Regions from separate parts of the Homo sapiens genome. Here region 1 is linked to region 2. Evidence: fine-mapped expression QTL. A gene starts in region 2. The other region holds a variant in brackets. All regions are shown on one strand. Distances are from middle to middle. Region 1 overlaps SNHG14 (small nucleolar RNA host gene 14). Region 2 holds the start of SNURF (SNRPN upstream open reading frame).

What was found.
Region 1: its variant is fine-mapped to the expression of SNURF in whole blood (TOPMed, PIP above 0.99).

What each region holds. Positions count from the first base shown.
Region 1 is chr15:24,988,974-24,991,792 of GRCh38, reverse strand. All of the region lies in intron 15 of SNHG14 (small nucleolar RNA host gene 14), which reads right to left. Among named protein-coding and RNA genes, the nearest start is that of SNORD108, 3.5 kb to the right of the region's middle. The variant G/C (reference allele first, on the strand shown) is at 1,614.
Region 2 is chr15:24,953,357-24,956,175 of GRCh38, reverse strand. It overlaps SNURF (SNRPN upstream open reading frame), which reads right to left and starts at 1,189. Exons shown (of 3, transcript NM_001394334.1): 1 at 1,114-1,189. The coding sequence starts at 1,127. SNRPN (small nuclear ribonucleoprotein polypeptide N) reads right to left here and starts at 1,189. Exons shown (of 10, transcript NM_003097.6): 1 at 1,114-1,189. All of the region lies in intron 4 of SNHG14 (small nucleolar RNA host gene 14), which reads right to left. RefSeq lists enhancers at 1-208, 209-774.

The DNA of each region.
Region 1 (2,819 bases), 36 kb before region 2:
TATACATTAAGTTCCCCCAGAAAAACATCCATAGCAATATAAACCAAAATAAAAGGATTTTTAATATACATCAGAGGTACTTTAACAATTATATTTCTAAAATCATTTCTTAAAATGTTTCTACATACTTCAGCAAACTAATTGTTAGCAATATCTATGTACCAAGAAAATGTCATAAAACAATTATTTAGAAACTTCAAACACTGTATCCTCAAATGCACATAAACAAAATGCCTTTTTTTCTAATTAACGCTTCCCATGTCATTTTCTATTACCCTTATGCACTCAAAAAGTGAATACAGAATTGTGTATATCTTTAAAAGGTGACCTGAGAATTCCTTTCTAACAACTGTTCCAGAATAAAATTCTAGCAAATAGAAGCTTCCCCAGGAAACCAGTTATTTAGCCACAGCAACTACATTAACAAGCTTAACAGATTCATGTTCAAAATCTAAGTGTTTGCTTTTAACTAATTACATTCCAAGATTATGCAAAAAAATACAACTATTACACATTTAATTTCACTGTCTGGCTTACCTAAGGCACAATGAACAATTCATACACATTTATCATTCAATGTGTATCTTACATTCTCATTTCAATACTATTATCTAAACATAATTTTCCCACATATTTAAACAAACTCGTAAGCTAAATGTCCACGAAAAAAAGTTTATATTATTTGAATATTTGGAGCTCTTTCACAATGCTAGCAGGAGTTGGGGAATGATGTCCTTATTGCATGTGCACACAAGTATATCATGTGCAGGGCTTTTACTGGTAAATCTTCCAAAGGCGAGTGGACTCTCCATAGCAAGAAAAAAAATATTATTGGTTGATGAAGTTCAGGCAAGTATCAATCTATCTTTCTTTCTTCCAAGGTTTTCTAGCTGATGAGGCATGTAGCTGAATTCAACATGTTATCCTTCCCCTTCTATCCATATATTCCTGCAGGGTTGGCTTGTCAACTTGAGTTTGTACAGACTACCCAAAATATTTCAAGTTTTATATATTTGAAATGTTTCTCAATTCAGTAGATAATTCTTTATGCACCTGCCACGCTGTGACTCAGACGGCATTCTGGGGATGAATCCGGATTGAGAGTTGCTGTTCTGATGTTGTAAGGAGCACACAAATAGAGTAGATCTGGACTATGGCTCTACAGAGGACCCTGGCCAAAGACCCTTTAAGGCAGACATCTCCAAGGGGGGTTAGACTTCCACCGCAATCTAGAAATAAAAATGCTCCAGAAGAATCTGTAAACTACAGTTTTCTCCATGCTGGGGTGGTCACTCAGACTACTCACTCCTGTTGATGTATTTCAGTGAAAAAATGGTTCATAAATCTACCCTAAATCATATGTTGCAATCAGTGTTTGTTGCTGCAAAAATTTCTGAAAATTTTTAAGGATGAGAGGATTAGAGTGAGGGAATGCCACAAAATATACAAATCCAAATGTTTGGTGTCCACAAGTGGGTGGTTTCCAGTGTTTATTGTGGCAAAAGATGTTCTAAATATTATAAACGTATGCAATCGTTGTCCTCTTCCTTGATTATTGCTCATTTCTAAAACTCTTGAAACATGACAACTGCTTATTTATTAAGAAAACCTGA[G/C]AAGGTTTGTCTTGTTTTCCCCAAATCAGCTCTGCCAGATAGATGAACTAAAGAACCTGAGGTTAGCAGCAAGGGGAACAGTTGAAAGTATGTGAATACAGTTAAGATGACAGAGCCCTCACAGGGAAGAGTAACTTCAAATCAGTTCTCTAATGGGGTGAACAGTATCTTTTGTACAGTAAGTTTCTAAAGGAAATAATCCTGGTCCATCTTTTTTAAGCTGCAATTTAGCCCATGAATGAAAGCTGTTTCCTTGCTCCTTAGCTGGCATTTCCTTTATACGTCTCTTCAGAATTGACAGTCGAATGTATCACAGTGATCTTAAAAAGATGTTTCTGAATGTAAATGAGTTTGAAATATTTCACAAATTTACTTTCTGCTTATTTTCTTGTTCAATTATCTGTTCATGATTTGTCCATTTTCAGAACAATTTTTCAAGCCTTTTTGTTCACAGAGTTGTAGATCATATTTATGTACACTACAGGAATCAACAGAGTAAATAACCAATATATTTTGCCAACCCAAATATAATAGATGCATTTACATTTATTTTTATGTTGTGAACTACTCTTAACACACCAACAAGTACACCCTCTTATCCTCTCCAACAGCAATGACCTCTTGATTTCCAACAGGTTTGCTCAAAGGACAAGTTCACGTGAACACATGCTTTTTTTTTTTTAACCTGGAATATTTATTCTCCAGTGAGCTAGCCTGAAGCAGGTGGAGGCATCCAATAAAATACAACCTTAAGGAACTACCTTTTCTATTTTTAACAAACCCCGAGTCAGAAATCTGGCAATATCTTAGGAACCTCTCTACTTGATGAAACAGACAACTTTAATTTAAAGCAAGACAGTATGTCCCAATTCCCTACTCTCAGCTATGTGGTACAATGAAATGCCCTTGTTCTTGACCTAAACCCTAAAAAAGAATGGAGGAAAAAAAATCAGGGTGAAACTGACGGCCATACTTTGCCTGTACTCTACTAGAGGGCAAATTTGTTATACTTTCTTCATTCATATATTGACTCTACCAATGACTGTGGTAACAACATACCAATGAAGCAAAAATTGGCTATCCATCAAACACATACTAGATGTTAATTATTACACTAGGCCTTGAAGACAAAGCAGTAAAAAGTACAGTCAAGGCATCTGATAAACCGTTAATGTTTCTTTCTCCCTATAAGGGAAAAATATCAAA
Region 2 (2,819 bases):
TCAAAAGATCTGTAAATGCAAGTTCTGCACATCATTCCAGTCTTCTTATGCCATAGCCTCTAAAGCGAGGGTTCCTAAAGGGTACGCAAGGATTCCACGCATTTCTGCAGCCCCTGCGGCAGTGTAGGCATTGCGCAGTTTTAATAAAAAAGCACCACCACCACAGTAGGCAAACCAGATGACCATCGCAGGTCACAGGAAAATTAAAGGCTGCGGACTGTGCTACTGCCCCTTCTGATGCCCCCTCCTCTACACAGCAATCATTCAGCGTCCCTTAGTCACTCCGGACAGCGACAGGCCCCGCGGCCGCCATGCCCACCGCCTCCATGCCATGCCCACCGCCGCCATGCCTACCGCCGCCAAAGTCCACCACCGCCATGCCTACCCGCTGCCAATGCCCACCGCCGCCAATACCCACTGTCGCCGCCTTCCCCCTACCTCCCAGCCACTTCCTACGGACTCTCCCCGCGCCGCGACCACCAACACAACCCCCACCACTGTCACACCGACTCATCCCCCTGGTCCACTGCCATAGCCTCCTCGCCTCGGTCACTGCGACGAATTCCCCCCCCAGTCGCCCCACGTACCCTGCTCCACCACGCAGTGGTCACTATTATACACCTACCTGCGCTCAACACCCCCTAAATACCGATCACTTCACGTACCTTCGCCCCGCCACAATCACTCCAATATACCTACCTCCGCCTAAAATCCCTATGCACTGGTCCCCCCACGTACCCTCGCCACACGGAACTGCAATCACCCTGATGTACCCACCTCCACCCATGTCCCTTGCCCACTGCGGTTACCCCGCATGCTCCCAGTCACCACCGCCCTTCCCACCGCAGACACCCGCAATAGGACCTGTCGCGACACCACAGTTGGGGGCGGATGGGGGACGCGCCCCAATGCGAGCGGACAGGATACCATCGGGGCAGAACGGCACAACAGCAAGCCTCTGAACATTCCGGATCTGGTTCTCCAGAACAAAGGACTTTAGGGCCCAAATTCCGTTTATTCAGTACTCCAAGTCCTAAAAACTTGGAATATCTGATGAATAAAAGTGGCCGCTCCCCAGGCTGTCTCTTGAGAGAAGCCACCGGCACAGCTGACCTTGCCCGCTCCATCGCGTCACTGACCGCTCCTCAGACAGATGCGTCAGGCATCTCCGGCGGCCGCTCCACTCTGCGCCAGACTCGCTGCAGCAGCGGCAGGCTTCGCACACATCCCCGCCTGAGCATGCGCGCCAGCCTGCCTCTGCGGCCGCGCAGGCGTGCTTGTTTGCCGCAGTGCAGGGGTCCCAGCTCCCTCCCTCACCGGAATGACCTGGGGGGAGGGGGCTACTGGACCCCTAGGGCCCCACAGCACTGTTGCAATGAGAGGGGGCCTCTAGAAACCATAAGCAACCTGGGATCAATGGACATGTCTACCTGTTTTTTAAAATGTGTAAAATACTAAAGAAATAATTCTTGGTTCTACAATAAATTTTTGCACACACCACTGGCCAAACAATCCTAATTTACACTCACCCTCAGGTCTTCCTATGTGCGGTACAAAAAAGCTGGTTTGGAAAAGTTAAATGCGCCATAACCACAATCAATGCAAATACGCCAGACTTGAAATCCTTCCAAAAGAAAATATCCCTAACTCTAAAAGCATGCTACATTGTTCAAATTTGGTGCGATTTTTCTACCCTTTTTCTACTTTCTACATTTTGAGGGGGTAAATTGTGAAAATTATCTCCCCCAAAATCACAATATAATTAAACTCTCCTATACGGAATGGATAGATCATTCAACTCAAAAACACTGGCTATTCAATTTTTGTAAAACAAAAATATGAACTTAGACCCCCACCTAAGATCTAAGTAGGAGAGCCTTTCTTTGCCTATTAGAATTGGATACATTAAAATTTTTACCAATAATCAATGATAGCTGGAGTGGGGAGAAACAGGCACTTTTATATAATACTAATGGACAAGTAAACATTATTTACGACATAATATTCTATCTGCAGAAATAACGGAAGCATCAGTAACTCCAAAATTTAGACGCTGATGTAGCTTGGGAAAAGACACTGCAGAAAAGAAGAAAATAATCCTGAAACTGCATCTGCATAGTTTTTACACACATTTGCCCTTTCTCAATTGCCCATTATCGAAGAAGGGAGGGTGATGTGAGTGGAGGTTGACTAAATGGTTAAATCCCCTCCCAAGCCCTGTAAGCTACTGCTCAGTTCCCAATGATCCTACATTAAAACAGGTGCGCAGAGGCTTATCAATGCTGACTTCTATCGTAACAAAATCTCAGAAACTGTGTAATGTTCCTCACAGAGAACAGATAGGCTAACTAAATAAACGTATATATAAATAATAACATGCAATATGGCTGATGGAAAAAATGATGTATTAGGCTGAATCATATAAAATTGTCAATATTGAATTGTTTTGACCTACAAAAACATTGCAATTTCTAATAGTTCATTGATACATATTCACATAAAATAACATGGGAAGTTGACTCTGATCACGGGAGTCAATCGAAAAATAAAATGTAGGCTGGGCACAGTGGCTTACGCCTGTATTCCCAGCACTTTGGGAGGCCGAGGTGGGCAGATCACGAGGTCAGGAGATCGAGACCATCCTGGCCAACATGGTGAAACCCATCTCTACAAAAAACAGAAAAATTAGCTGGGCGTGATGGCACATGCCTGTAATCTTAGCTACTCGGGAGGCTGAGGCAGGAGAATTGCTTGAACGTGGGAGGCGGAGGTTGCAGTGAGCTGAGATCACACCACTGCACTCCAGCCTGGTGACAGGG